Linked DNA regions of Homo sapiens: all the other regions are reported to be linked to region 1. Evidence: microRNA targets listed by miRTarBase, many of them from high-throughput screens and not tested one by one. Region 1 holds a microRNA gene; each other region holds the end of a gene's coding sequence.

Region 1 (5,069 bases):
TAAATAGGCTCACCTGGAGGTCTTTTCCCATTTGAGGCAATGAGATATGTATGTGAGGCTTTATGACTTGTCTTTTTTTTTTCATTTTGAGACAGAGTCACGGAGTCTCACTCTGTCACCCAGGCTGGAGTATAGTGGCATGATCTTGGCTCACCGCAACCTCTGCCTCCCAGGTTCAAGCTATCCTTTTGCCTCAGCCTCCCGCGTAGCTGGGATTATAGGCGCCCGTCACCACACCCAGCTAATTTTTGTAGTTTTAGTAGAGACAGGGTTTCACCAAGTTGGCCAGGCTGGTCTCGAACTCCTGACCTCAAGTGACCCACCCACCTTGGCCTCCCAAAGTTCTGGGATTACAGGCGTGATCCACCGTGCTCGGCCTCACCACCCGCCTTTCTTGTGGTGTAGTTCTTGCTGCCTCAAGAACTACATATATCAGGCCTCAAAACCCACCTGATATATGCGTGCCTGGGAATAGGGACCTTGACTTTTCCCCTGTCCCATATGGGCCCAGGGGCCGGTTCTGGGCTGGCCCAGGTGGGGCTAGAGCAGCTGGATCCAGGCACATGAGATGTGAAAGTGTGGGCCTTACGCCGCATGGAGCGGCTGGAGGAAGGAGAGAGGGAGCAAGGGTGCCGCAGGGTCAGATTGCCACAGGGCCAGGGTGCCACAGGGTCAGGGTAGGGCCAGGGTGCCATAGGGTCAGAGTAGGGCCAGGGTGCCACAGGGTCAGGGTAGGGCCAGGGTGCCGCTGGGCCAGGGTGCCGCAGGATCTGGTTGCCACAGGGTCAGGGTGCCGCAAGCACAAGGAGTCACCCGTGATTCTCCAGGGTCTGGCTCTTGGGCTGAGATCCAGGAGACCTTGGCAGGCCTGTCTTTGGGAGTCTGGCACAGCCCCAGAAGGCCATCTGGACAGTTTTCAGACCTGAGAGGAGGAAAGGGCTTGTGTCTGGAGAAGGTGCCATGGGGGATGGGAGGTGGAGGAAGCCTGGGGCCAATCAGGATCTGGATCTAGCAGGGAACACCGAGGCCGGTGTTCTCGTCCCACCATGGGACTCAGCCTGAAGAAGACAAGGTGAATGAACGACCATTTCTCTCTAACTCAGTTGGCTAAGAGGACTGAGCTGGCGCCGAGGCTCTGGACACAAATGGGCCAGTTGACCCTGAGGTTTCTTTCTGGTAGTGGAGGTGGGGCTTCCTCTGGCTGACCCTGCTTAGGTCTCTGATGGAGGTAGCAGGGGCTCTGGTTCCCCCAAACTGGCCAAGTCCTCCACCATAGCACCCAAGGGGTCTGGGCAGAGTGCAGCTTCCCTCCCCTCCCCAGCTTGGCTTGGTGGGCACCTGCCTCCCCTGCCCTCCTGACCTTGATGGCTAATGCAGCCAGCCCCAGGCAGGCACAGTCACAGCCCTCAAACAACATGAGGCCCAACTCAAGACTCCTGGGTGGTGGTGGTCAAGGTGGGGGACTCTGTAGCCAGTAGAGCACTGTGGGGGCAAGAGACTGACTTGAAGGCTTGGAGCCTCACATGCCCGCCTAGTGGGGTGGTCCTGAGGGATATGACTTCTTTGGGCCTCTCTGCTCATTTTTGGAACCTGACCCGAGAAGGAGCCCATCCAAGACAATGTCCCGCCCTCAGGGAGGGTCTGGCAGTTTTTATCCCTAAAGGCTGGGATTCTCAGCGGAGCATCCTAGGCTGTAGTACCCACGACATCTTGCACACAAGAGGTGGAATCGCCTGTTGATGAAGAGCAAGGCTCTGGAATCTGTGATCTTGGGCCACTCACTTCACTTATCAATCCCTTCGCTTCCTTCTTGCCTGTTACATGGGGTCTGCAATCTACCCCTCAGGGGCGCTGACGAGCTCACATGAGCCTGTGACATAAAACACCTAGCACGGCCCTGGCGCAGTAAGAGCTCAGGAAACGGGCTGCTGCTGTGGTTACTGTGGACCCAGGCGGAAACAGAGCAGCCCCGCCCCTGCCGCAGGCATATAAAAGTGACCACTTGGCCGGTCACGGTGGCTCACGCCTGTAATCCCAGCACTTTGGGAGGCCGAGGCGGGTGGATCACCTGAGGTCAGGAGTTTGAGACCAGCCTGGTCAACATGATGAAACCCTGTCTCTATTAAAATACAAAAAATTAGCTGGGCGTAGTGGCAGGCGCCTGTAATCCCAGCCGCCCAGGAGGCTGAGGCAGGAGAATCACTTGAACCCTGGAGGTGGAGGTTGCGGTGAGCTGAGATCGTACCATTGCACTCCAGCCTGGGCGACAGAGCCAAACTCCGTCTCGAAAAAAAAAAAAAAAGAAAAGGGACCACTCACTTTGGTCTGATTCTTCAGTTCTCATGGTCCTTTTACATCGGTCATTTCATTGCATTCTCCAACAGTGTCTGAGGGAGACTGGTGTCTCATTTTGCAGAGGTGAAAACTGAGGCTTGGCAAGATTAGGTAGCTTGTCCAAGGACACACAGCTGGTGCTTCCAGAGCGAGACCTGGCTTTCTGTACCCAAAGCTCTTGGGTAGTCTCTCCCATCCTGGGATCTTGAGGGTCACGGGAAGGAACTGGGTGGTTTGCAGTGGGACCCTTCACCTAGTGCCTTCTGACCTTGCAGATAAAATACCATGAGGAGTTTGAGAAGAGCCGCATGGGCCCTAGCGGGGGCGAGGGCATGGAGCCAGAGCGTCGGGATTCACAGGACGGCAGCAGCTACCGGCGGCCCCTGGAGCAGCAGCAGCCTCACCACATCCCGACCAGTGCCCCGGGTGAGTGCAGGTCCTGTTGGTGCAGATGACCTGAGGCGAGGCCAGTGGGGTGGGGAGGAAGCCAGGAGAAGACAGACAGACAGATACACCTTCCGGAGCCTTGCTCTTAATCAACAGGCGATTATGCCTCTTGTGTGCAAGAGGGGACCAGAGGACCTGAGGCCGGGCCAGCTGGGGTGGGGAGGAAGTCGGCGAGAGACAGACACACACACACACACACACACACACACACACACACATGCACGCACGCATGCAGGCGAGGAAAAGACTGCTTCCCAAGACCCCAAGTTCCATTCTCATCCAGAATGAGGACGTGAGCACCAGGGTCAGGCCTGTACTGGGCCAAGAGGATTGAAAGGAGAGGCCCCCAGGTCATGGGGCTCAGAGCCCCTGCGTGGGATACAACACACAGGCAAATGTGCACACGTGGACATCAGCCTTTGAGCTGTGGGGCTTGAGCCAGGTTGGGGGCGGGGTGGAAGTGCATGGTATGGACTTCTCGGGAGCTCTGGGAGGGGCTGGGTTTGGCAGGACAGTTTCCAAGCCCTGTCTCCTCCCATCTTCCAGTTTACCAGCAGCCCCAGCAGCAGCCGGTGGCCCAGTCCTATGGTGGCTACAAGGAGCCTGCAGCCCCAGTCTCCATACAGCGCAGCGCCCCAGGTGGTGGCGGGGTGAGTAACCCTGGCCGGAGGGGAGAGGCCAGAGGCAGGGGGTCCTTCGGGAAGGCTTGGACACAGCTCATGGATTCTCCTGACCTTTGCACCCACCCTCTGTTGTGTGTGATGATAAGGATCTCAGCCTTGTGAGCAGAGAGGAAATTGGTTGGCGTAGTGGGCAGAGGCTGGCTGGGACTGGGGCCCTGCGTTCCAGCCCTGGTGTACCATGGGCAGGTTGCTCACCCTGCTTTGGGTGGGGTTTCCTTACCCCAGCTACCTGGGAACACACAAGGCAACTTTCTGCATGGGGCCTTCCAGCACTGGGCGCTGCTCTCCTCGCTTCATGAGGATGGCCCCCACATCCTTCAGCTCTCAGGCTGCCCCTGCCTCTGAGGGGCCTCCCCAGCCATGTCGTGTAAAGCGCATCACCCTGATGCTTTGCATCACTCGACTCCGCTGGCTGCCTTCAGAGCACTTTTTCCAACTAAAAAGAGCTCTTCGTGTTGGTCACCTTCTCTGTGTCCCCTGCTGGGCTGGGGACCCTGGCAGCGTCCGTCTGGTTCACCTACTCTGAGCCAGGCCTAGAGCAAGTGAATAAGCCCAGCAGGAATGGGGTGAGATCAGGCTTCCTGAGCCCTCAGAGCTGAAGTCCCGGCTCTGTAAGTCCTGCCACTCACTCCACCCATGGGTGCCGCTGAGCCACCCTTACCAAGCTCCTGGCAGGCTCAGCGCCTCCAGGCTGGGTGCCTGGGAATTCAAAGTAGCTCACGTAGGAGCAGAACAGATACTTAGAGAGATAAAATCGCCTGAGATAATGGCTGGCTGGAGTCTGATGCTCTGGGCACACAAACAAAGGGATGTTAGGACTGCCCAGGGCACTGTGGGCGCAAGAGTTAGTCTGAAGTATAAGGTTCCAGGCAGCCCAGCCAGTCCCTCCCTCCTCAATGGGTCTGTCCTGGATGTGTAGGGTCCATCTCTGAATATAAAGCCACCTCTCTGCCCTCTGGGGGCTTACATTCCAGTCAGGGGGACAAACAAGAAAACAATAAGAAAATAGGTGTATAACATAAGGTCAGCGGTGACACGCTGTGAAGAGAAAGACAGCAGGGTGAGGGATGGATAGAAAGCAGCTGGATTAAGACATTTGGCCGGGGGTGGTGGCTCACGCCTGTAATCCCAGCACTTTGGGAGGCCAAGGCGGGCAGGTCACTTGAGGTCAGGAGTTCGAGATCAGCCTGGCCAACATGGTGAAACCCCCTGTCTACCAAAAATACAAAAATTAGCCAGGTGTGGTGGTGTATGCCTGTAACCTGTAATCCCAGCTACTCGGGAGGCTGAGGCAGTAGAATTGCTTGAACCCGAGAGGCAGAGGTTGCAGTGAGCCAAGATTGCACTATTGCACTCCAGCCTGGGTGACAGAGCAATATCTCCAAAGAAAAAAGACATTTGGCCGGGTGCGATGGCTCACACCTGTAATCCCAGCACTTTGGGAGGCCAAAGTGGGCAGATCACCTGAGGTCAGGAGTTCGAAACCAGCCTGGCCAACATGGTGAAACCCTGTCTCTACTAAAAATATAAAATTAGCTCGGCATGGTGGTGCATGTTCATAATCCCAGCTACTCGGGAGGCTGAGGCAGGAGAATTGCTTGAACC
Region 2 (5,069 bases), not on the chromosome of region 1:
GACCCTTTTTCAGAGTTCCCTGAAGAGCAGGAGAGGCTCCAGTTTCCCCTTCCCAGTCTGGGTGTCCACCTGGAGGAGAGAGGGTGGCTGGGCTCTAGCCAGGAAGGAAAGGGAACCGAGGGGGCTGGGAAGCAGGGCAGGCAGCCCAGCTTGGTGCCTCCTCCTCCCAGGCTTCACTGCCTGCCCACTCCCCTTTGCTGGGGTCCAGGGTTTGCCCAGCTATGAGGGCCCCTCATTGCTTTATGGCCCCAAGGCAGGCGGTGGGTGGTGGGGGCCGTGGGTGAGGAGGCAACCTTCTAGTCTTAGTGTGCTCTCTCTGCCTTGCCTGGATCCCACTCTCCTTCCCCACCCTTTTCCTGCCAGACACCTGTGGAAAAGCAGGGGCTTCAGCCCCAGCCCACCCCACTTTCACACACGTTTTCATCTGCACATGCCCTTTGCTGCTACAGCTCCCATAGCTAAGGAGATGGCAGCTCAGAGCCAGGGGAGACTAGGTAAGGGGCAGAATGGCAGCGACTCCCAACCAGGCTGCCTGCCAGCCTCACAGGGACAGGGGGACGACTGCCCAGCAGGTGGCCAGGGTCACCCTGATTGCCTCTTTTCCAACCACTTCTTCCTTCATCCCACACATCCCTCTGGCCTTAGCCCCACCCCACACTGCAGCACTGCGCAGGGCATGCCTTGTGCACCGTCCTCTGGACAGCCGTCCTGGACAGGGTCCTCTCAGTCAATGTGTCTGAACCAAAGGCATCTGTGGACAAGCCCCTCATCTGTGTTCCTGTTTCTGCAGTGGTGCCATGATGTGCTCCTGAATGTCATCCTCAGTGCCACCTCCATCCAATCATGGAACCTCAGTGACCACACAGAACACAGAATTCTAGATTCTAGCCTTGTGGCTGTCTTCAAACAGAGCTGACAGCCCACCCTGTTAGCAGCGACCTTCTGGGCATAAAAGCCAGCCATGTTGTTGCTCAAAAGACTGTTGGTGTCCAGTGCCAATGGGGTGAATGTCCTAACCTTGTGTCTCTCTCAGCACCTGTCTGTGCCTGGGCTCCAGCAGGCCTGGCTGGCCACCATCCCCCGTACCTGCAGGCCCTTCCTGGGGTCACGCCTTGTGAGCCAGGTACTGGTGTGGCCGGCCCTCTAGGTGCACTGCCACAAGTGTTCACAGCAGGTGCCACTGCAGCCCTTATCTCTCAGGGGAAAGTGAGGCACAGGAAGGCCAATGAGTAAGCTCCAATCATACCCAGGTTTGAACCGTGCAGTCACGCCCCAACATCTGGGCTCTTTTTTTTTTCTTTATTTTTGAGATGGAATCCCACTCTGTTGCCCAGGCTGTAGTGCAGTGGTGTGATCTCGGCTCACTGCAACCTCCGCCTCCTGGGTTCAAGCAATTCTCCTGCTTCAGCCTCCGAAGTAGCTGGGATTACAGGTGCGTGCCACCATGCTCGGCTAATTTTTGTATTTTTAGTAGAGACAGGGGTTTCACCGCGTTTGCCAGGCTGGTCTTGAACTCCTGACCTTGTGATCTGCCTGCCTTGGCCTCCCAAAGTGCTGGGTTTACAGGCGTGAGCCACCTCGCCCAGCCCATCTGGGCTCTTTTAAACATTTTTAAAATTTTTTACTACATATATATGTATATGTATTTTTTTTTTTTTGGACAGTCACACTTTGTCATCAGGCTGGAGTGCAGTGGTGCAATCTCAGGTCACTACAACCTCTGCTTCCTGGGCTCAAGAGATCCTTCCACCTCAGCCTCCCGAGTAGCTGGGACCACAGATGTGCAACACCATGCCTGGCTAATTTTTTTGTAGTTTTTGTACAGACGGGATTTCACCGTATTGCCTAGGCTGGTCTCAAACTCCGGAGCTCAACCAATCCACCCTCCTTGGCCTCTCAAAATGCTGGGATTTATTTTTCTTTTTTTCACGTTGGCTTCCACATTAAGGACACCACACCTGCGCTCTTAACTGCTGTCCCCAGGTCTCCTACGTGGTCTTCAGGACTCCAGAGCCTCTGCATAGGCTGTTCCTCTTCTCATTGTGTCTTTTCCCTTCTTTGCCTGGCAAATTCTTGCAAGCACCACCTTCTCTAGGGAGACAGAGGGTCTCTGTAGGACACACCCTCCCCCATGGTCCCTTAGAGCCATCCTCCCAGGAGACTAGGCTCTGCTCACACCTGCCTTCGTGGCACTCCCCACCCCACCAAATAGGGCATAAACAGGCAACGTGGGGAGGACTCAAAACACATTCTCCCGCCTCCCGCAGGTCTTCAGAGAGCTGGAACCTGCGGTGCTGTCCTGCCTCCGAGGCTACAGCGTCTGCATCTTCACCTATGGCCAGACAGGCACCGGGAAGACCTACAGCATGGAGGTGGGACAGAGCTCACGCCCCAGTGGGAGAGGCCCCAGGGGCCCTGCATGACTTGGATGTGAGCCCGGTGTGCACCCCACCCCATCCTCAGGGCCCTCCTGAGGACCCCGGCATAGTTCCTAGGGCGCTGCAGTCGCTGTTCCGGGAGATGGGGGCCGGCCGGCAGCACCGGGTGACACTCAGCATGGTGGAGATCTACAATGAGGCTGTCAGGTGGGCTACTCCACCAGGGAGGCCTTCTCCCCACCCCTGGCCCAGGGCCCTTCCGGATTTCCAGAGAATTCTGGAACCAAGACCTTCCCCTTTCTCACCAGGGACCTCCTTGCTCCAGGGCCTCCCGAGCGCCTGGCCGTGAGGCAGGGCCCAGAAGGCCAGGGCGGGATCCAGGTGGCTGGCCTCACCCACTGGGACGTGCCCAACCTGGAGACATTGCACCAGGTAGGGCTGCACCGCTCTCCGAGACCCCGCCCCGTGCTTCCACTTGGGGGCGGGGACCCTGCACCTGACCAGCCCTTCGCCCCGCCTTCCAGATGCTGAAACTGGGGAGGAGCAACCGGGCCACCGCCGCCACCGCCATGAACCAGCGCAGCTCCCGCTCGCATGCCCTGGTCACGCTGACGCTGCGCGCGGCGTCTCCACCGCGCGCTCCAGGCACCGCAGGTACCACGGCCGGTGCCTGAGCCCTGCGGAGTCTCCAGAGCACCCGAGGCCCGGCCTTCCCCCATGTCGGGCTCGCTCGCCCCTCTAGGCACGCTGCACCTGGTGGACCTGGCGGGATCCGAACGCGCACGGAAGGCAGGGGCGGCCGGCCCGCCGCGGGGAGACCCAGACGGCGCCCGGCGCCTGCGGGAGGCCCAGACCATAAACCGCTCGCTGCTGGCGCTAGGAGGCGTGATGGCCGCACTGCGGGCCCACCGGCCGCACGTGCCCTTCCGCGACTCGCAGCTCACGCGACTGCTGCAGCCGGCGCTGGGCCCAGGCACCACCGCGGTGCTGCTGCTGCAGGTGGGCGCCGGGGCGGGGCAGGTGTGTGCGTGCCGGTCGCCGCCCACCCGGGCCCGCCCACCCGCGCCTCTTGCCCGCAGATCTCCACGCGGCCGGAGGATCTCGGGGAGACAGTCTGCTCCCTCAAGTTCGCCGACCGAGTGGGTCAAGTGGAGCTGGGGCCAGCCCGGCGCCGCAGGGTCCCGCGCTCCTCCGGGACGCCTTCTTCCCTCAGCACCGACACTCCGCTCACCGGGACCCCCTGCACCCCTACGCCGTCCCCTGGCAGTCCTCCATGCCCCAGTCCCGACAACGGCTCGGGCTCGGCTCTCGCGCCCGCAGAGGGCCTGCCCCTCTAGTCCTGGGTCGCGGCCCTGCCCATGGGGTCTCAGGCCAGGTCTCTGCTGGCAGAGGCGGTAGTAAAGTCCCTGTACCCCGTCTCCCAGGGCACAAGCTCCCTAGCCTCTTTGGATCCATTGCCCCTGAGCTCCCAGAGTCACCCCTCCACCTCCGCAGCCAGTGAAGTGTGTTGTGCCTGCTGAAGTGATCACCCCCCGCCCCCAGCCCTGCATCAGGCCACAGGTCTTGGCTTTCTCCTTATCACCATTTGCTGTTATCACGGCACACAGCAGGGAATCCCAGGCCCCCCCGCCAAGTGGTTACCCAAGTCACCACTCCTGACCCAAAAATCAGGCATGGCATTAAAACGTTGCAAATTCCTTTACTGTTATCCCCCCCACCACCAGGACCATGTAGGGTGCAGTCTTTACTCCCTAACCCGTTTCCCGAAAAAGGTGCTACCTCCTTTCCAGACAGATGAGAGAGGGCAGGACTTCAGGCTGGATCCACCACTGGGCTCTCCCTCCCCCAGCCTGGAGCACGGGAGGGGAGGTGACGGCTGGTGACTGATGGATGGGTAGTGGGCTGAGAAGAGGGGACTAGGAAGGGCTATTCCAGGCTCAGCCCTGCTCCTGCAGCTTTGCCGCTGAGTGTAGGAAAAACAGGCATGACAGACCAGGGTGAGGGTTGTGCCCAGCTGGGCCACGGCCATGCGTGGGGTGGCCCAATAAACACCGTGGACTCCCAGCAAGGCTGCTGCCTGGTGTTTCGAGGCTGCTGTGGTCGCAGACAGCCGCCTCGCCTTGGCTCCCTGTCAACAAGGTGGGGGTGGGAGCGGGAGGGAGGAGTGGCCCCTGTCTTAAGAGCCTCACAGGCTGCACCAGGAGAGCAGCCAGCCTGGGCCAGGGGCCGCCAGGTCCCGAGGGTGGCTGACCCAAACGTCGTAGATGCTTTTGTTGGGTGGCACCCCTTGGAAGAGGGCGTCTAGATCGCAGAGCAGCCCTGGGGGCCCTCGGGTTTCAGGGGCCACCCCCCAGTAGGCAGGGCTGGTTGACGGACACTGGGGACAGGAGGTGGGTGGTGGTGCCAAGGGCATTACCACATTGGGAGTGTAGATAGGCAAGTAGGAGGTGGGCAGCTGCCCCCAGAGGGAGGCCCTGTGTCCCCCGCTGGACCGTCCCCCAGGAACTGCGGTGCCCTGCAGTAAGTGGAGAGGCCAGGCCCTAGGCTCTGGGGAGAGGGTTGAGGGCCCGATGGCTCCCCCCTGCACAGTCTCCCCCTCCACTCTCGTGGGGCCAGGAAGGGGGCAGAGGGGCCACAGAGGCCTCTCAGAAGAGGGAAGGGGTGGGGTGGGCACCGCCTCCTCCCCACTGT
Region 3 (5,069 bases), not on the chromosome of region 1:
CCGGCGGACAGTGCGTCCTCTAGGGCCGGGAGCTGCGGGCCGAGTTCGCGTGGGCCCTGCGCTTTCATCCCTGCCGGGGACGCCGGGGTTGCGGGATAAACCGCTCGACACACCCTGCCTCCCTGACTGCGCCTGTGTGACACATACGTTCACTGGTGGGGCACGCATCAGATACGGATGGCAGTGGTTTTGAAGTGGGAGGCCCTGTATAAATGTAAACGGTTATTACTGTAAATGCTCTAACAGAGCTGCCTGGGGGGCGCTTCCAGGGAAGCGTGGCAATCTCAGGCCGGGAGAGGAGAGGCGTCCTGGGCCAGGGCGCTGCAGGAATACAGGTCTGGCGATGTGCAAGTACACAGATTCACCAGGCAACAGCATTGCGGCAAGGGTGGGATGGGGAAGCCAGACCTAAGGCCAGAAAAGGAGATTGCGACCAGAGCATGCCTGCTGTGACTGTCAGAGTAAGTGGTTTCAACTTTATTAGAGACTTCTAAGGAATGACTTGGTCAGCTCTGTGCTTTCTTGCCTTCAAGAGTGTGTGCTGGGCGCTGGCACTGCGCTCAAGCAGATGATAATCAAGACACATACCTGGTGTGCGAGGAGCTTATGTAGATTGAGACTAGAAATATAGACAGATAACTGGTCTTAAAGAGAAAGATCCTAAGACAAGGTACCGCTTTTCGAAGTGTCATAGTTTTCACAGTACAATGGCCTCTTAGCTGGGATGTGAAGGATACACAGGAATTCATGAAGTCTTCTTTAGTAAAGAAAGCTTAGGCTGGGCACAGTGGCTCATTCCTGTAATCCCAGCTCTCTGGGAGGCCAAGGCAGGAGGATCGCTTGAAGCCAGGAGTTCAAGACCAGCTTGGACAACATAGCAAGACCCCATCTCTATAAAAAAAATAAGCTGGTGCTTACTGCCAGTCCCATGGTGGGTCTCAACCTGGGAGGGATGGAGGAGGACATGGTTTCTGGTCCTGCTCACAACACCCAAATACATGGCAATCTCAGGCCGGGAGAGGAGAGGCGTCCTGGGCCAGGGCGCTGCAGGAATACAGGTCTGGCGATGTGCAAGTACACAGATTCACTAGGCAACAGCATTGCGGCAAGGGTGGGATGGGGAAGCCAGACCTAAGGCCAGAAAAGGAGATTGCGACCAGAGCATGCCTGCTGTGACTGTCAGAGTAAGTGGTTTCAACTTTATTAGAGACTTCTAAGGAATGACTTGGTCAGCTCTGTGCTTTCTTGCCTTCAAGAGTGTGTGCTGGGCGCTGGCACTGCGCTCAAGCAGATGATAATCAAGACACATACCTGGTGTGCGAGGAGCTTATGTAGATTGAGACTAGAAATATAGACAGATAACTGGTCTTAAAGAGAAAGATCCTAAGACAAGGTACCGCTTTTCGAAGTGTCATAGTTTTCACAGTACAATGGCCTCTTAGCTGGGATGTGAAGGATACACAGGAATTCATGAAGTCTTCTTTAGTAAAGAAAGCTTAGGCTGGGCACAGTGGCTCATTCCTGTAATCCCAGCTCTCTGGGAGGCCAAGGCAGGAGGATCGCTTGAAGCCAGGAGTTCAAGACCAGCTTGGACAACATAGCAAGACCCCATCTCTATAAAAAAAATAAGCTGGTGCTTACTGCCAGTCCCATGGTGGGTCTCAACCTGGGAGGGATGGAGGACATGGTTTCTGGTCCTGCTCACAACACCCAAATACATGGCTCTTAGTGACCCTGTTAGCTCCCCACATAACCTCGAGTTGGTTTTAGGAGCGAAAACTAAATTTGGGGCATGGAGTTTGGACACAAGTGTGTCAGGGGCATTTTGGGAAAACTCATTGTATTAAAATCCAAATTTACAAACCAGATCCATTTCGGGGGATGAGGTAGTTTGCTTGACTTTACAGAAGAGTTCATTATCCTCTTAACTCTCAAGCCCTCAGCTACATGTCCCACCCCCACTGGAAAATCAGATCTAATTTATAAAAAACTCAATTTACCCCCAACTTCCCCTGACTGTGAAGTCAGTGTGAGGGGCCTCGATGGCCCAGGCTACAGATCCATGAAGGCCTCAGGGTCTTTCCTAGACCTCTTCTCACATCCAGATGCACAGAGACCATCTTCAACCCCTCCAACTCACCCATCTTGCAAAGAGGGAAACAGGAAAGAGTGGGGAAGGGGCTGCCCCAGGCTCACATACCAGAGACCTCCCAAAAGGAGAAAAGGGCACAGATGCCATAATCATACCAGTCTGCGCTCAATGCTAATCAGCCAGACTAAGTTGAGCTGAGTCACTTTCCTATCGGCTTTAGTTTCCTCACCTGTAAAATGGGACAATAGCACCAAACTGCTGATGCATGGTGCATGCTAGGGTTAGTGACTAAGGGAGAGCCCATGCTTCTGAGCACACCCTCAACTCCCTCCCCGCCCAGACCCACAAATCACCAACATGCCAACTCTGTGTCCAAATGTTGCTTTATCTTTCGGCACGAAAGATCTTCACAGTATCAAAAGTAAAGAATTGGAAAAAAACAAAATAAAAACAAAAACAAAAAAACCAAACACAAAGAGAGCAGTGTTGGGCCAGCAGTACCATCAGCCCTGGCCCTTAGGCCAGCCCAGTCCACGGGCTCTGAGTGTGGAGGCTGCGTAGCACCAGGAAGCGGCTCTGCTGAGGTCAAGGGGCCCCAGCACAGTGTGGCATCCGTTCAGCTTTTGGTTGGTCCAGGATGGTGGGGAGCACAGAGGGTCTTGGACGGGTAGGTGGGGCACACGGAGGGAAAAATTATACGCCTTCAGCTGGCAGTCAGGGCCTCAGGACGCCCTGAAGCAGCTCAGCCTGGGCAGGGCCTGAGAAAGAAAAAAAGAGCAGAATCACAGTAAGCAATGAGCCATGCTCCAGCCTCCCCATGCCACTTGGGTACCCATGGGTCTCTGGTAGCAGAAACAGCTGGCTGCTATTTTTGTTCCCTGGGCTGAAAATGTTGAAGATTCCCTGGATCACCTGTAGCAGAGGATGCAGGTTAACGGGTTGGGAGACAGAGCCCCAGTCCCAGGATCCTGACAAGGTGGGGGACAATCCTTGAGTAGATCCAGCCTTTGGCACTTGCTGTCCATCAGCAGGGGCTGGGAGGCCAGCTGTGCAGCTGTGCTCCTGCCTCTGACTGTAGGTGCACAGCCCGGGGGAGGGTGAAGAGGCTCAAAGGAGAGCGCTTACTAGGGGGTGGGGAGAGGGGCATCTTCTATCTTGGAAAAGAGGCCAGACCAGGTGAAAAAGGGTCAAGAGGAGGCAGTGGAAGGAGACAGTTGCATTTGATTTCTTGAATGACAGAACTGGGCTTGTGGGAGGAAATGCGATCTCTTTTCTCTCAGTAGGGATAACAGATGAAGTGCCTGGGGTTCCTGCTACTCCTGGTTCCCATGGAGGTGGAGAAGAGGCAGGAGGCCACCTTGGATCTGGAAGATACTTCTGGGGCTTGTGGGCATCTCAGTTTGGCAAAGGGGGCTGACTGAGCCCAACCCCTTCAGAGGAGAGGAGGACTAAAGTGAGTGTAAAGAAGACAGTCTGGACTCTGGGGCAGCACAAGGGTCACAGGGAGCCCCAGCTCTGAAGGCTGTCCTGGCTGCAGGCTCTCTGAGCTGCCCCTGGGGAGCTGAGGGTCCAGGAAGTTTGCTGCTTAGGCCCAGAGAGGAGCTGGCCTGGCACTGGAAAGAGGAGAAAGACAGGTGGGGCCATCATGGGGGAAGTGAGTTGTTTGTGAGCTCAGTCTGCCTGCCCCAGCCTTCCAGTCTCCAGGACAGCTGTGTGGTTGCCAGCCGGAAAAGGCCTGACCCCAGGGACACAGCTGAGGGTTGAGATATGAAACTGCAGAGCCACTCAGCCCCCAGCCCAAGGTCTGCCTGCTAGCTGCCCTTCTCTTCATCAATAGGGTTCCAGGCCCAGTGCCTTCTCCAGTTGTCTGTTCCCAGTCCAGATCATCATCTGGTACATCATTGTTTCAGACAAAAGGACCTGTGTGGGTGGCTGGGAGGGGATGCCAATGCCATCTGGCACCCAGGTCTCTTCCTCTAGGAGGCACTGTGGCTACCAATATCCTCATGGAGCTTGCCCTGCTTTGGGTAGCCCCCATCAACTCCTCCATGCCTAAATGACCCACGATGTTCACTCAGGGCTGGCCCCTTCTTATACTGCTTCAGCTGGGAAGTACCTTGGTAGCCTACACTGAGGAGCCCAGGGCAGGAAGTGGGACTTGACACAAGGACTGATAACATCAGGGGTGAGGGCAGCCCCATGGGTCTGATGGCTACCTGGGCACTTTTGAAATCAGCTGGTTAAGACCCTGATGGTTATGCCTTAGGAGATGCCAGTCCAGGAAGGGGACCTTCAGGAGCATGGGCAGCAGGGCCCAGGGAGGAGTAATAGAACAGAGGCCTACAGGTGAGTGGCTGCGGGAGGAGATGGGGCCTTGACCTTTGGAGGCTGTAGCCTGCCATTGCTGTGAAGATGCAGACAGAAGCCAGGGATCCCATGCCCCAAGTCCAACTCCCTGTGCCCCAGAGCACAGAATGGTCTGGTGAGCGTACAGAGAGGGTGGCCAAGCACAGGGAGAGGCAGTGGATGTAACTCTTGGGGTCTCTGTACCTCACTGAGCTGTGCTAGGAGTGGTTTTCTTGAGGCTGAAGTTGGTCCAGTTCACAGCAACTTTCTGACGAGTCTGCTTTGCAGAATCCAAACAGAACCTGTTGGGTTTGGGGGACACATGAGAAGCACAATCAGAGGTTCATTCTTTTGCTCACTGGACTCCTAAGGTACCATGTCCCCATCACTAAGAGACCAGGTTCTCTACAAAACCTCTTTGGCTCTCAGGTGCTAGGGTTTAGCAGGCATAGGAGCTTTGCTGGCTTGGGGGCTTCTGGATTGGGCCCAGGGAACTATGTATGAAGACAGTGAAACTGCCTTGGGATTCCAGTTCCTCCTCATCTGGTGTTTGATTCTCTAGCTCTGCTAGGCTGGCTTCCGTCATTCCCTTAAGTACAGTCGTCCCTCTGAATCTGCTGGGGATTAGTTA
Region 4 (5,069 bases), not on the chromosome of region 1:
GCAGCGTCTTTAGCCTGGGTGGCCTGCAGCAGCCTGGGCCCCACAACTTCTACTCTCGCCCACACTTTGTCAACACTGTGGAGATGTTTGACCTGGAGCATGGTGAGCAGTGGCTGTTCTGGGCTGTCCTCCCGCTCTCTGTGGGATGGAGGGGCATAGTGTGTACATGACTAGATCTGACCTCCCCTCTCCTGCAGGGTCCTGGACCAAATTGCCCCGCAGCCTGCGCATGAGGGATAAGAGGGCAGACTTTGTGGTTGGGTCCCTTGGGGGCCACATTGTGGCCATTGGGGGCCTTGGTAAGTCTCTATGGGGCTGGGGAGAGGAGGGAGTCCCAAGACAGGAAAGACTAGCCCCCAGCATGTGTGTCACCTTCTGCCCATCTCCAGGCACTCCAGGGGTCAGGGCTTTGTGAGCTCTTTTCCCTATCTATGAAGTAGGCAGGATGTGGTCTGCCTGGCCCAGCACTCAGGGTGTTCCTCAGTGACTGGGGGCTCTGTCAAGCACCAGCAAGGGTCTACGAGACAGCAGCAGGACAAATGACCACTGTATGCACAGTCAAGAGAACATATAGAAACATAAATGAATGAACAAATGATGAACATAGGCAATGAGGAGCAAGGCCCTGATAGCTCATCCTGGGGTGATAACTACTGGGCTATTCTCTGGGCTTAGGGAGCAGAAGGGCCTGGAGTCCCTACGGCCTGTGCCTCTCACAGCCTTCTCTCTCCTTCTTGCAGGAAACCAGCCATGTCCTTTGGGCTCTGTGGAGAGCTTTAGCCTTGCACGGCGGCGCTGGGAGGCATTGCCTGCCATGCCCACTGCCCGCTGCTCCTGCTCTAGTCTGCAGGCTGGGCCCCGGCTGTTTGTTATTGGGGGTGTGGCCCAGGGCCCCAGTCAAGCCGTGGAGGCACTGTGTCTGCGTGATGGGGTCTGAAGGCTTGGTGGGAGCTGTCCACTGGAGCAGCTCATTGCCAGAGGCAGCTATTTCTATGGCTCCTTTTGCTGCTGAGGACACTCACTGTGGCTCTGTGGGATGAGAGAGGCATGGGGGTGAGCACTTGAAACACTGCCTTGGGGCCTTGGGTTAGGGGAGCCTTTGTCTTTAGTGCAGGACACACATATGCTTACACCTACCTTTATCACCATTCGTTCATGAATCATGCCTAGCTCCATCCTTGCCCTGGGACCTACTAGGCCTTCCATCCAACTGGGAAATGGGGAGAAGCAAAGCTGGCCTCATGCTCTTCAGGGTCAGTTCCTATCTGGAGTTGACCAGGCCTACCCCAGTTGCCATTCCTGAAAAATCTCAGCTGCCAGGCTGCCTTTAGGGTCCCTGCAGACCCAGGAGAGTTGAGAGGGTGGGGGACACAGAGAGAATAGAGAGGATGTGGGAACTGCCAGAGGGCCGGAGCGCAGGAGTTCAAGTGGAGGAATGCTGGCTTTGAGCCCTCTACACTGCTGGTTGTATGACCTTGGACAAGTCACTTCACCTCTCTGTGCCTCAGCATCCTCATCTATAAATGGGGATCTCTGAAACCTTCCTACCCTACCTACCTCACAGGGCTGTTGTGAGGACCCAGGGAGTTTGGATGTGGAAGTAAAAGTGCTGCTAAAACCTAGTGTGTGGACCCTGGTGTGAACTCCCTTGTTTCCACTGCCCCTGCCTTCCTTTGGGGGTCTCAATGCCCCTAGGGATGAGGGTCCAGAAGGAGCCTCTTGGATCTGGTCGGTGTTCCCAAAGTGATTTGGTGTTTCTGTTCCATCTGAGCCTCAGCTTATTCTTTGGCAACATGTGATGACAGCGCCTCCTTACTGTCCTGGGGATTAGAGAGCACTAGGGCAGTAAGGAAGGGCTGTCACATGTCACCAAAGGATGGCAGGATAAGATGACCAGAGAAGTGCTCAGAAAACAACAGAATACCACAAGGTTAGGAAGACCTCCAGATCCAAGTTACAGAGTGTCTCCTTAGGGTCTCTGCTCACCCCCACAGGGAGGGGTGGTGCAGTGGGTTCTGTGGCCCAGGGCAGTCTCTTTCTGTCTCAGCTGTGGGGCAGCCGTCTCTTGGACAGGACTGTGTGGCCACCCAACAAACCCCTCAAAGGCAGCTGCCTCCTGAGAAAGCTGCCAACTCTTCCTTCTTCCAGCCTTTGTCGCCCACTAGTACTGGTCTCTGGGGTCTGCTTTCCCCATAGCTAAACTGAGTACTTGACCTGCTTCCCCAGTGATGCCTTTCATTCTAGGGTGAAGCACCTAGAAAGTCAGTGGCCCACAGGATATTTGCACATTGTCTGGCACGCTGGCAGAGGAAACCAACACAGAGATGTCTCTGGGGGAATGGGCTGTTTCCCAGAGGAGAAAGGTTGTGGGGAAGTTAGTCACTCCGCTGCCTTCATAAGGAGCCCTCCCTCAGTGTCACCCCCTTCACCCTGCCACCTGCTCTGTCCTGACTTCAACTTAGGCTGGGGACTGCCCTCTAATCTTCCTCTCTACAGCTGGGTTTACTGCAAGAACAGAGTAGTACTTGGGGCCCTGGAACCCACCTGATGTGGCTATAGCAATCCTCCTGGACTCTTAGCCTCCTGCAGGCCTTACCCTTTCTCACTTAGTGGCAGGGATCCCAGAGCAGCACCTCCCATGCCCAGCACAGAAACACACCATGGGCACAAGTGCCATGGGAGACAGGCACAGGACCTGGCAGCCTACTACTACCTTTCAGCCTCTTGGGCTACATCCCATTGTGGGCTGCAAGCACAGACAGGCTGCTGTGTCAGCTGTCCTTGTTTAATGCTCTGGACCAGTTTAGACACTCAGAGACCCCAGCATGAAGGTAGTGCTGCAGCAGCTTGGGTCTTGGGATCCCTGGGAGGTCAGGCAGTACGTCAGTGACCGGCGCCTGGGGCCCTACCTTGTAGCTGCCATAGTGGCCACCCTGGGATGGGCAGCAGAAGTTCTGCTGGTAGGTGGTCCTGGTATGGGAAGGCTGGACCTGCACAAAGTGGATGAGGTGCTGGGGGAGGCCACTGAGTCCTGGGCCTGGCCTGAAATCAGCCTGGTAAGAAGATTCCAGGGGCCCCTGCTGGCGCAACTCTATCTCACAGGGTGCCCAGCGCAGGAAGGTGTGCCGCTGCCACAGGCGCTCCAGGTCCTTCCGCCTTCCGATTCCCTGCAGCAGGCAATAGGGACCCTCCTCAACGGTATGGGCCCTTGGCCCACATTCCTGGCACCAAGCACCTTCTTGGGCCCCTCCTAACCCCAAGTCTGCTTGGTGATACCTGTCCTATGCCTGGCTGTCTTGGCCTGTACCCTGGCCTCCTTGGCCTGCCTCCCCAGTGATGTCTTTCATTCTAAGGTGAAGCACCCAGAAAGTTAGTGGCCCACAGGATACTTGCATATTGTCTGGCAAGTTGGCAGAGGAAACCAACATAGAGATGTCTCTGTTTGGGGGAATAGGCTGTTTCCCAGAGGAGAAAGTTTGTGGGGGAAGACAGCCACTCCTCTGCCTTCATAAGGAGCCCTCCCTCAGTGTCATCCCCTCCACCCTACCATCTGCTCTGTCCAGACTTCAGCTTAGGCTGGGGGACTGCCTGCCATTCTTCCTGTCTTCGGCACTCACTTTGTCAAAGGAAGTACGGTTGTCGTGCTTGGAGAAGAAGTGTCGCTGCGCCGGCTCCTTGAAAGACAGTGAGAAAGAAGGTGAATGGGGAAAATGATGCTTATTTACCCACCCTTACCTGGATCACTGCCTCAGGGTCCTTAATGGAGGGAAGTCACCAGGAGCCACTGCCCCTAAGCTGCTAAACTGCCAACAGACAGAGGGCAGAGACTAATTAAAGCAACACTTCAGTCCTGGGATATCTCAACCTGGGACTTGCCCTGAAGCAGAAGCCCGTGGAACCCTTATTGAGGAGGGTCCTCAATAAGGAGGCATCTGCTAGAACATCCTCCCATCAGGGGAGCAGTGGCCAAGTTTCAAGTTGGGCCTTAACTCTTGATTGCCCAGGACTCTAGTCCTCTCCTCCCCTGCATCCACACTTACTCCCCCATCAACATACCCAGCCTCTTGGCTCTAAATGCCATCTGAAAACTGGAATTTCTATCTCCAGCTCAAACTTTCTCCTGAACTTTGGGTTCAGTAGACAACTGCCTACTCCACATCTCCATGTAAATGCCTAATTGAGCATCTCCAAACATATGACTGAGCTTTGGGTCATCCCCAGACACACTCCACCTATAGCCTCCCCCAGCTCAGACCACGGCAGCCAGATCCTGTCAAACACCTTGAGTCCCCTTGATTCTCTTCTCTCATACCCCACATTGAATATGCAAGTATCCTGTTGATACTGTGGTCAAAATGTGCCCAGGACCAGACCACATCTCAGCATGCCCACTCTTTTCCCCGATCCAAGCCACATTACTCTCTTGCCTGAATTATTGCAAGAGCTTCCTGCCTGGTGTCCCTGCTTTCAAACTTACCCCTCCAGTCTGCTGTCTGCTTAGCAGCCAGCATAATTCTGTTAGTACATAAATGAGATCACATCTCATTTGCTGAAAATCCACAACAGTTCCTCCTATTTGTGATAGCCAAAGTCATCATAGTGGTCTGTGAGACCCACATGATATTGGTCCTTCTGTTACCTCCAGCCACACTGATTTCCTCACTGCTCCTCAGACACACCAGGTGCTCCCACTTAGGGCTTTGCACCACCTGTTCCTTCTCCTGGCCATATAATTCCCTCACACCTCCCTCTTTTCCTTCCTTGAGCACTAGGCCAATAGTTCCATCACCCTAACCCTGCATTTTTCACCTGCTAACATACTATATTGTTCTATGTGATGTTACCCCCACTGATTAGAACATCTCATGCCCCGCCATTAAACATAAGCTGCTTGTGGGCAAAGGCGGTCTGTCTTGCTCACATCTATAACTTCAGCACTGAGAATAATGCCTGACACAGCTCAATAAATGTTGCTGTTAAATCAATAAACAGGCTGGGCACGGTGGCTCACACCTGTAATCCCAGCACTTTGGGAGGCCGAGGCGGGTGGATCACCTGAGGTCAGGAGT
Region 5 (5,069 bases), not on the chromosome of region 1:
TCTTCCTGCTGGGCACGGCCTCCAAGCAGGAGGAGCGCACGCACTACCAGCAGCTGCTGGCCTACGAAGACCGCCTCTACGGCGACATCCTGCAGTGGGGCTTTCTCGACACCTTCTTCAACCTGACCCTCAAGGAGATCCACTTCCTCAAGTGGCTGGACATCTACTGCCCCCACGTCCCCTTCATTTTCAAAGGCGACGATGACGTCTTCGTCAACCCCACCAACCTGCTAGAATTTCTGGCTGACCGGCAGCCACAGGAAAACCTGTTCGTGGGCGATGTCCTGCAGCACGCTCGGCCCATTCGCAGGAAAGACAACAAATACTACATCCCGGGGGCCCTGTACGGCAAGGCCAGCTATCCGCCGTATGCAGGCGGCGGTGGCTTCCTCATGGCCGGCAGCCTGGCCCGGCGCCTGCACCATGCCTGCGACACCCTGGAGCTCTACCCGATCGACGACGTCTTTCTGGGCATGTGCCTGGAGGTGCTGGGCGTGCAGCCCACGGCCCACGAGGGCTTCAAGACTTTCGGCATCTCCCGGAACCGCAACAGCCGCATGAACAAGGAGCCGTGCTTTTTCCGCGCCATGCTCGTGGTGCACAAGCTGCTGCCCCCTGAGCTGCTCGCCATGTGGGGGCTGGTGCACAGCAATCTCACCTGCTCCCGCAAGCTCCAGGTGCTCTGACCCCAGCCGGGCTACTAGGACAGGCCAGGGCACTTGCTCCTGAGCCCCCATGGTATTGGGGCTGGAGCCACAGTGCCCAGGCCTAGCCTTTGGTCCCCAAGGGGAGGTGGAGGGTTGAGGCCTACGTGCCACTGGGTGTGGTGGGGTGCAGGTAGCCAGAAAGGGACCTCCCTGTGTGGATAATTCTAGGAAACTGAGGCCCAGGAACGGTTGGAGCTGCCCAGTCTGGAGGCCCTCTCTGAGGAGCGAGGCGCCAGGCCCTGGCAGCCCTCCTGACCTGGGTCCGTTGCTGGCCCCCTCAGATGTGGTGGGAGGTCCTGGTGACCTCTGGAGGAACGCTGTGCTCAGGTACCTGGGCTAGGCCTGGCCTGATGGGTCTGTGGCCGCCCCTCGTCTTCACAGGGAAGAGTCTTCTGTGAAATGCCTCAGTCTCCCCAGAGGCCGGGCGGCCCTGGCAGGAGAAACTCAACCCTGTGCGGGCTCACAGGCACCCCCCAGTCCACACCCTGGTCTCCTGGGAGAGAGGGCCCAGCCGGCTCTCCGCAGCCCCAGGCCTGCCTGGAGACGGGCCGCCTCTGCCACAGGGCCTCCACTCCTGGCTGTGTCCTGTAAGGTCTGGAAGGGCGACCGCTCTGACTACCTCAGCGCCCCTCAGAATCTCCCTGGGGCTGCAGCCCTACCCCACCCCGACACAGGGCAGAAGAGCAGCGCTCCTGGCCCCCCGAAGTCCCAGAGCTGCTGACCCCCACCCCAGGCAAGTCTCTCCCGCAGCCCCCACACCCCCAGGCCTGGCTCCCTGGCTGGAAAGCAGCCGGTTTGGCCCTGGAAGTGGACATTCCTCTATTACTGTGAAGTTTTATTTATGAAGAATTTGGAGGGAGAAGGCTCCAGGCTTCAGGAGGGGGTGGTGTCCTCCCTGGCCCTCCTCCCTTCCCTCCCCTCATTCCAGCTGCCTGCCCTCAGCACCCCCAGGCCCCTCACAGCCCAGCCCCCTCCAGAGCCCTGCCCCACCGCACCCTGCTTCTCCAGGGCCTAGCAGACCAGCATCTGCCCCGGTGAAGGGATGGATCAGCTGTGGGGGTGGGTGCAGAAGGTTGCCACCTCCTACCTCAGCGGGAGTCACCTAGGAAAGATGGAGGGATTGACACTATTTTCTCAATAAAATGGGACTTTTTTTTTTTTTTTTTTTTTTTTTTGGTGTGAAACTTCCTGTTCCCAGCTGCATCAGAGAGCCTGTCTGGGGCCAAGGTTGCCAGAGATTTCTGAAGACACAGCTTGTTCCTTGTTCTTGGCTGGTGGGTGCACAAGGACTTCTGGAAGGGATTTAGACGGGGCTGAGTGCTAGGATTAAAGTGGGGATGGGAGTACGGCAACAGAAAAACCTGGGAGCTAGCAATGCACCCAGCCCTTGACTGTGCCCTGGTGGACAGCCGAGCTGTGGCTCTAGCGTGAGCCAGTGCCTTCCTGTCCCTGCCAAGGGTGAGGCCAGAGTTGGCCCCGAGGCTAATGTTTCAGTGGGTGAGATTAGGTCGGCCGTACAGAGGCCGGTGGGCTCCCTGACATCCCTTCCAGGCAACCTGAAAGCACTGAAATAGCTTATGGCCCTGTGCCAGGGACCTTGGCCCAAGCTGCTGACCTCCAGGGTGGGGAGGGAGCTACCCCCAGGAGAAGAGTCACTCAGACAGCAGTATGAGCAAGCCAGCCAGCAGCTCCGTGCCTGCACCCAGCTCAGGGGAATCCCAGGGGGTTCAGATGCCCAGGAAGGAAAAGGGGACAGCGCTACTGCTATGGAATGAGACCACCACTTCTCCTGTTGTCCTTCCCAGCTTCTCCCCAACCTCCCCTTTTCCCTAGTTTATAAGACAGGAGAAAAGGGAGAAAGCAAAAAGCTGGAAAGAAACAGAAGTAAGATAAATAGCTAGACGACCTTGGCGCCACCACCTGGCCCTGGTGGTTAAAATGATAATAATATTAACCCCTGACCAAAACGACTGGTGTTATCTGTAAATCCCAGACATTGTGTGAGAAAGCACCGTAAAACTTTTTGTCCTATTAGCTGATGTGTGTAGCCCCCAGTCACGTTCCTCACGCTTACTTGATCTATTATGACCCTTTCACGTGGACCCCTTAGAGTTGTAAGCTCTTAAAAGGGCTAGGAATTTCTTTTTCGGGGAGCTCGGCTCTTAAGACGCGAGTCTGCCGACGCTCCCGGCCGAATAAAAACCTCTTCCTTCTTTAATCCGGTGTCTGAGGAGTTTTGTCTGGGACTCATCCTGCTACATTTCTTGGTTCCCTGACCGGGAAGCGAGGTAATTGACGGACGGTCGAGGCGGCCCCTTAGGCGGCTTAGGCCTGCCCTGTGGAGCATCCCTGCGGGGGACTGTGGCCAGCTTGAGCTACGCAGATCCTGAGAGCACTCCCGGGTAGGCAATGCTCTTGACGGGTGGAACACCTCGTCAGAGCAGTGTGTGGCAGGCCCCCGTGGAGGATCAGCACAGTGGCTGAAGGAACGGGCACTTGGAGCCCGGACATCTGAAACTTGGTAAGACTGGTCTTTGGAACTTGCCCACTCCATTTGAGTGGAAGCATGTCCTGATCACCCACGGTGTGCCTGTACCGGCACTTTGGTTTTTGTTTTTGACTTGACTTGAATTGCTTGATACTTTGGTTTTGGTTTTGACCTGGCTTGGATTTCTGGATACTCTGGGTTTGGTTTTGATTCTGGTTTGGTGTAAACTGAAAAAGTGTGTGTGTGCCCTTTTTACCCATTCTTTGTTCTGTGGTGTGCGTGCGGTGTGAGCTTGGTGTTTTGTCTCAAGGAAACACGGGTCAGACACAAGGTAAGCCTACTCCGCTAGGAACTATGTTGAAAAATTTTAAGAAGGGATTTAACGGAGACTATGGGGTTACTATGACACCAGGGAAACAGAATTTTGTGTGAAATAGATCGGCCAACATTAGAAGTGGGTTGGCCATCAGAAGGAAGCCTGGACAGGTCCCTTATTTCTAAGGTATGGCACAAGGTAACTGGTAAGTCAGGACACTCAGACCAGTTCCCATACATAGACACTTGGTTACTACAGCTGGTGCAAGACCCCCCACAGTGGCTAAGAGGGCAGGCAGCAGCAGTGCTAGTAGCAAAGGGACAGATAGCCAAGGAAGGATCCCGCTCTACCCACTGGGGGAAATCAACTCCTGAAGTTCTGTTCGACCCAACATCAGAAGATCCATTGCAGGAGATGGCACCAGTGATCCCAGTGCTGCCCTCCCCTTACCAGGCAGAGAGGCTCCCTACTTTTGAGCCCACAGTGCTTGTGCCTCCGTAAGACAAACATATCCCTAGGCCACCCAGAGTAGACAAGAGAGGAGGTGAAGCCTCAGGAGAAACCCCTCCCTTGGCAGCTTGTTTAAGACCCAAAACTGGGATACAAATGCCCCTGAGAGAGCAGCGGTATACTGGGATAGAGGAGGATGGTCACATGGTGGAGAAGCGTGTTTTTGTGTACCAGCCCTTCACCTCTGCCAACCTTCTCAATTGGAAAAACAATACCCTGTCCTATACTGAAAAACCACAAGCTCTAATTGATTTGCTCCAAACTATTATCCAGACCCATAACTCCACTTGAGCTGATTGCCACCAGTTGCTCATGTTCCTCTTTAACACAGATGAAAGGCAGAGAGTGCTCCAAGCAGCAACTAAGTGGGTACAGGAACATGCACCGGCTGATTACCAAAACCCCCAAGAGTGTGTAAGGACCCAGTTACCAGGAACTGACCCCCAGTGGGATCCAAATGAAAGAGAGGATATGCAAAGGCTAAACCGAGACAGGGAAGCTGTCTTGGAAGGATTAAAGAGGGGAGCCCAGAAGGCCACAAACGTTAACAAGGTCTCTGAGGTCATTCGGGGAAAAAGAAGAAAGTCCAGCACAATTCTACCAGAGACTGTGTGAGGGCTATCGTATGTATACTCCCTTTGATCCCGTTAGCCCTGAAAATCAGCGAATGGTTAACATGGCTTTAGTTAGTCAAAGCGCAGAAGACATTAGAAGAAAACTGCAGAAACAGGATGGGTTTGCAGGGACGAACACATCACAGTTATTAGAAGTAGCTAACCAGGTGTTTGTAAACAGGGATGCAGTAAGCCCTAAGGAAAACCGCAGAGAGAATGAACGTCAGGCCCGGCGAAACGCCGAGCTGTTAGCTGCAGCAGTCGGAGGGGTCTCCTCAAAGAGGCAAGGGAAGGGGGGACCCGGGAAAGAGACTCAGCCTGGCTGTCAGAGCTTGCAGTGTAACCAGTGTGCTTATTGTAAAGAAATAGGATATTGGAAGAACAAATGCCCCCAGCTAAAAGGAAAACAAGGTGACTTGGAGCAGGAGGTTCCA
Region 6 (5,069 bases), not on the chromosome of region 1:
TGATGGTAGAACCTGTGGGGAGGGGCTGTGCCCCACAAGAGGAAAAGCTACTTGCTAGCTGGGTTGGGGACAGAGGCCCAGGCTAGAGATGGGCCCAGGTGCAAATTCTAAGCTGCCATTGGCATGATGGCTCTGCCTAAGCTATAGAGATCCCCCTCCCCATCCCTCCTAGTTTGTCACTTAAGACTATACTCACCTTTCCCCCAACCTCACCTGTGGCCTTTTCACCAATCCCACATTGGATTGGTGGAAGTGCAGCTACCAGGGCAAACCTGGCGCTGATGGATAGCAAGCCACTGGGGCTGCCCCCAAAATGGTCTCTTGGACCAGTGGGCTGAGCAGGGCTGCCTCAGGGTGCGACCCGGGCCTCCCAGCAGCCTCTGAGGTCCTGGCTGTCAATGGTCGGGGTAGGACTACATGACCTCCAGGGGCTCTTCCAGAATTAAGCATCGTCTTTGAAACTGTCGGGCATTTCATGGTATGTCAGGCTCTGTGCTAAGTCCTTTCAATTGTTATCCTCTTCAATCCCCACCACACCCTATGAACTAGGTGACTACTCTCTTCAGTTTGCAGATAAGGAAACTGAGGCCCCAGAAGTTAAGAAACTAGCCCAAGTTAGAGAGGAAGGGAATGTCAGAGTTGGGTGTGAGCCCTGGGCGAGGCCTAGGACCTGCCCAGTGGTGATGTGAGGCTGGACCACAGTGCTGGGGCTGGACCAACCTCTGCGTCCGGGCTGGGACATGGTTCCATCGTCCACGCCCCACCTGGCTATGCACTCCGAGGGACTCCTCTGGGCCGGGCCTGGTCAGCACCTTGTGCCCCAACGCGTGGCCTGGAATAAGTCAAGCTATAGTCTCAGTTTGACATTAGTCTTTTATTATAACCATATTGAATGGGGTCGCTTTGCCAAAAGGAGAAATCATTTCTTAAATCAGTATGAGTTATAGCATAAAGATGGATGAGAAAAAAGCGATAGGGCATACATGGCGTCACTGAATATTCCATCAATCAAATGAATTGTGCCACTGTGAGAAAAACTACTATGACAGCTTTTACATCAAAGTGGTCTCAAGCCTGTTTATACGAACTTTATATATCTTTTTAACAGTATAAAAAGAGAGCTTTAGTAAGTAACACTGAGAAAGCAGTCTGGCCTTTGAGAAGGAAGCCTGGCTTGCCAGGTGCCATCCTCAATGTATCCGGCCTCTTCTCTCTGCTCCACAGCCTCCCCAGTGCCCCTCCTCCAGACACACAGGGCAGGGGCCAGGGGCCAGGTGTGTGTCCGCAGGAAAGGAGGGATGGAATTGGTTGGAGCCGCCACAGAACGGCCACTCTATGTGGGGACCTAAGTCCTCCGTACACACTCCTGTTCTATAATGAACCCTTGGAGCAGTTCCTTAAAAAAATAAAATAAAAACAAAAATAATGTGCATCAACTCTGACTCACAGGTTATTCTTAGGAGGCCAGCATGACTGCCACAGAGTTTGATATTTGTTCAGCATCTCTGACAAAGTAGAGGAGGCATTCCTGTTGAGAGCGGGCAACTAACCCCCAACTCCCTGAAGCAGCTTCCTTAGCAACCCCAGGGCTGACAGCACAAGAGTCAACTGGTCATCTGCAGGCAAGGCAAATCACAGGGAGGTCCTGGTTTATTTTTAGAGTCACATTCTTTCTGCAGTGATATTATTTCTTTCCGGATTGCAGTTACCTCTGAACATTAGCAGGAGGTCAGCTTTGGAAGAGTAATCCAGTGTAACTAAATGTTTAATGTGTTATCTGACCCTGTGGCATACACTCAAGGTAAGGCAAAGTAATTAGACTTGCTAGTCTGTAACTCTCACACGTAATGTACAAAGCTAAATTTTAACTCAAATTCCAATCTGATCAAAGAGGAATGCATGAAACACATAGGGACACATATAAAAACAGGAGATGATGATGATGGGAATTAATCTAAGCTTCATGTATACAAAATGTATTTAACTGCTAATAATCAAAACGTAAGAAGGGTTCCACTGATTACATTTGTTAACAAAACACAATATATTCAGGATTTAAAAAATGTACAATTAAACATAAGTATCTGATAATATAATAAAAAGGAGCACATATTCTTTAATAGCACTGTAACTAATAAAATTGCAAATAATACTCAACTATGAAGAATTTAAAAAAACACTTAAAAAACATAAGGCAGTAATACAATTGTCTGAGTATGAGCCTGTGGGAATTTGAGGCTGGTACTACCCATGACCCACTGTCCTTGTATGTCTCTCTCCTCCAAGGAGGTGGTGAGCTTGCTGGGGGCCACAGAAGCACAGGATGGAGAGGACCGAGAGGACCTGCCTCTAGTGTGCAGCAGGGCTGGGAGTTTTCAGTGACTATTAAACACCCAGCCAACTGCAGGGAGCCAGCGGAGAGCCTTATTGGCATGGTGGGTGCCTAGTGACTCTTGCAGGGCGAGTGACCCTCAGCTATCATGACTCTAGCTCTAGGGCAAAGGAAATACTAGAGGTCAGCAGGTGACACTGGCCCTGCTGCCCAGGGATGGCCAGGTCTGTGGTCCTTTCCAGTCTGTCCCAGAGCCCTGGTGGGAACAGCTCTACACCTCTTACCTTAGAACTGAAAACACTGACACCTTCCCAAGGTGAGAAAGTGACCAATGGCAACCCTGCACAGTTGCAAGGTCACTCGCTGTATGGGGGCCCCGCGGCTTTTACAAAGTGTTGTCATAGGGATATGTGCTTGGCAGCAGCTTACTCAGAGGTGCTGAGAGGAACACTCAGAGCCAGAAGCCAGGGAGCTACTGTGTGCATCTGCCAGGCAATTGCCCAGTGGTTGAAGGTCAGACAACCTGCTGTCTGGCAAAACCAGTTATTATTCACCTTACATGCTGATGTGGTAAGAGGAGAGTTCCCTGCTAGAGTTTAAGAGCAAATTGCAGAACCAATTAGAACCCTCTCTACAGTAGCTGACTTGAGAGTGAGTCACCATTTTCTTGGAGGGCAGGTGGGAAATCATGTCATTATCACATTTGTCTATAGAGATATATAAGGTTAGCAGTGGGAGGGACGTAAACAGTGTCTGTTCCTCTATACTGAGCTTTCATTTGTTACCATGAAGGCCTCCACTGCCCGGCTGCCTCGCCATCCTCTGAGGACAGGCTCAAAGAGCTAGTCATCCCTGGCATGGCTGCTCTCCCTGATGGAGGCGAGACAGGCACTGTGTCCCTCTGCCATCCTCACCCACTCCTGTTAGAATTCCTGCGCAGGCAAAGGAGAGGAAAAGCATCCTTTCCAGGGATCTTCTTTAAGGAGAGAAACAGCTCATGTGATGCTCTGTGCCCATCATGGTTTCCTAAGGTGCTGACTGACAAGGGGGAGAGTCTCTAATCTGTGCTCAGCCCAGGAAGGCACTGGCATGTCAGACCCGGTCCCGGCAGTGGGGCCCAGGATACGGGGTTCACAGCTGAGCACAGGCCCTGCAGTACCTACACTTGACTTCCAAGAAGGGAAGGGGTTGTGTAGAAATCCTGCATCCTCTTGGCATGTGGAATGTTCTCTAGGTATCCTTATTCCCCACAGAAGGGACTCTAGGTCCAATTCTCTGTCTTATGACTGCTACCTTAAGGCCAATGAGGGATTCTGACTTTGGGTGGGAATGAACTTGGGTTTTTCCCTTTATTCCTCAGTTGACAGGTATATACAGCTCTGAAACCAGAGAAACCTGACTAGAAAACTGACTGTCTGAAAGATGTTTATCCCATAAAGTCAAGGTCGCATTTTCCATTTGAAGGATAGTAATATTCTTATATCTTTTGAAATCAGTGCAGCTAAAACTGGCTTACAGTAATCTTGTTTTCTGGCTATGAAAGATTCTAAAAGGTGAAATATAATTGTTTAAGGAGAGATATTGATGGCCAAAGTTGATATGGCCTAAGGATTGGAGATGCATTCTTTAATACATCAAAAAAATCTAACACTATATCACACCTAAATATTATTCCTAAGCTTAGATCCTGTTTGCAGAGATCCTTATAACTTTGAGAGGTCAGTAATGAGGTTTTTTCTTTTTTTTTTTCCCCCAGCCCTGGAATCCACTAGTTCTGGTTCATTCTATTGCATTTAGCTCTGCGATATGGCTTCCCAATGCAGGAATAAAGTAGGCTGAGACAGATTTCCACAGAGGAAGCTTTCTTGGTATAAACCAATTTTCCCATGTCTGATGCTTTGAGGGATAGAAGATACGAAAATAACTATTTCTGCTCCTTCTAAGTATAACTGATGGAGGTGCCACACATTCTTAGCTGGGGAGAAGGGGACAGAGGAAAAGTGATTCTAAATTGTGATTCGGTCTTTTCTAACTGTGAGTGTGATACTGGGTACGTAACTCAGCTCTAACTCAGAGCAAGAGTCGGGTGGGGATTAGGTAAGGGCCCAGAAAGCCCTGTCTGCATGTGGCAAACCTAAGCCTCTGTGCTTTGTGGCCATATATGCTTCTCTCTAAGGGGTTTCAAAGGGCTGGACCAATGCAAAATGCATGCCGGGAAGGAAGCAGTGGTTTAAGAAGGTTCTCCACTGGATGAGCCTCAGTCTGGCCTTGGGGCCACTGAAGGGTGGCTAGATCCCTGTGGGGCAGGACTGGGCACTGTGGTCAGATGTCCAGGGGACTCACAATGGTGAAGCCAGAGTCCTTGCTGCTGTCGTCATCAGGACTGGAGCTGGGGTTGCTGGAGGAAGCTGAGGCTGGGCCCATCAGTGGATCTGAGAACACCAGTGGGGAGCAGACTGGGGCCTGGCTTTTCCCAGAGGTGCTTCTGAGGGTGCGAAGAGGCTGGGCCTGGCCGGAGAAGGAGCCCCTGGCACTGCTCCCATCATCATCTTTGGAAATCAGGATGAAGTCATCGGAATTCCCTCTATCAGTGCACCCTGGCGTTTCTGAAGAGGCCTGTGAAGTACAGTCAGAAGTACAGGTGGATGAAAGAAGAAACTGGCAAAGAACTGAGTGGAAGGCCCTGTGAACTGGGGGACTCGTGGTGGAAAGCTAGGCCACCTCACCCTACATTCGA

What was found. The annotated mature microRNA hsa-miR-6779-3p reads AAGCCCUGUCUCCUCCCAUCU and lies in region 1 at 3,302-3,322, shown strand. An mRNA with a match to its seed (bases 2 to 7 or 8) in the 3' UTR can be bound and repressed. Matches are read on the target gene's strand: a 7mer-m8 pairs with bases 2 to 8, a 7mer-A1 pairs with bases 2 to 7 and ends in A, and an 8mer does both.
Region 2: miRTarBase lists FOXH1 as a target of hsa-miR-6779-3p. Seed matches in the 3' UTR shown: 7mer-m8 at 4,318-4,324 and 7mer-m8 at 3,919-3,925.
Region 3: the mRNA of FAM193B is a reported target of hsa-miR-6779-3p. Seed matches in the 3' UTR shown: 7mer-m8 at 2,598-2,604.
Region 4: the mRNA of KLHDC8B is a reported target of hsa-miR-6779-3p. Seed matches in the 3' UTR shown: 7mer-m8 at 1,562-1,568.
Region 5: the mRNA of B3GNT7 is a reported target of hsa-miR-6779-3p. Seed matches in the 3' UTR shown: 7mer-A1 at 2,835-2,841.
Region 6: the mRNA of TBC1D5 is a reported target of hsa-miR-6779-3p. Seed matches in the 3' UTR shown: 7mer-m8 at 4,444-4,450, 7mer-m8 at 4,087-4,093 and 7mer-m8 at 2,585-2,591.

What each region holds. Positions count from the first base shown.
Region 1 is chr17:38,911,716-38,916,784 of GRCh38, forward strand. It overlaps MIR6779 (microRNA 6779), which reads left to right and starts at 3,264; the gene lies at 3,264-3,327. LASP1 (LIM and SH3 protein 1) reads left to right here. Exons shown (of 7, transcript NM_006148.4): 5 at 2,610-2,760; 6 at 3,328-3,431. RefSeq lists an enhancer at 197-1,156 and a silencer at 4,960-5,069.
Region 2 is chr8:144,469,675-144,474,743 of GRCh38, forward strand. It overlaps FOXH1 (forkhead box H1), which reads right to left. Exons shown (of 3, transcript NM_003923.3): 3 at 3,738-5,069. The coding sequence ends at 4,564. KIFC2 (kinesin family member C2) reads left to right here. Exons shown (of 18, transcript NM_001369769.2): 13 at 2,268-2,372; 14 at 2,464-2,585; 15 at 2,687-2,810; 16 at 2,903-3,032; 17 at 3,121-3,377; 18 at 3,458-4,528. The coding sequence ends at 3,715. Among named protein-coding and RNA genes, the nearest start is that of FOXH1, 3.6 kb to the right of the region's middle. RefSeq lists a silencer at 2,768-2,827 and enhancers at 3,730-4,625, 4,626-5,069.
Region 3 is chr5:177,517,332-177,522,400 of GRCh38, forward strand. FAM193B (family with sequence similarity 193 member B) reads right to left here. Exons shown (of 9, transcript NM_001190946.3): 8 at 4,643-4,740; 9 at 2,458-2,850. The coding sequence ends at 4,644. Among named protein-coding and RNA genes, the nearest start is that of DDX41, 2.9 kb to the left of the region's middle.
Region 4 is chr3:49,174,865-49,179,933 of GRCh38, forward strand. It overlaps KLHDC8B (kelch domain containing 8B), which reads left to right. Exons shown (of 6, transcript NM_173546.3): 4 at 1-102; 5 at 198-299; 6 at 741-1,622. The coding sequence ends at 937. CIMIP7 (ciliary microtubule inner protein 7) reads right to left here. Exons shown (of 4, transcript NM_001080528.3): 3 at 3,618-3,674; 4 at 2,770-3,188. The coding sequence ends at 2,772. Among named protein-coding and RNA genes, the nearest start is that of KLHDC8B, 5.8 kb to the left of the region's middle.
Region 5 is chr2:231,398,240-231,403,308 of GRCh38, forward strand. B3GNT7 (UDP-GlcNAc:betaGal beta-1,3-N-acetylglucosaminyltransferase 7) reads left to right here. Exons shown (of 2, transcript NM_145236.3): 2 at 1-2,925. The coding sequence ends at 686. Among named protein-coding and RNA genes, the nearest start is that of B3GNT7, 5.1 kb to the left of the region's middle. RefSeq lists enhancers at 1-70, 323-870, 871-1,416, 3,058-3,603.
Region 6 is chr3:17,156,309-17,161,377 of GRCh38, forward strand. It overlaps TBC1D5 (TBC1 domain family member 5), which reads right to left. Exons shown (of 23, transcript NM_001349074.2): 23 at 860-4,948. The coding sequence ends at 4,655. Among named protein-coding and RNA genes, the nearest start is that of PLCL2-AS1, 100 kb to the left of the region's middle. RefSeq lists enhancers at 2,110-2,610, 2,611-3,111.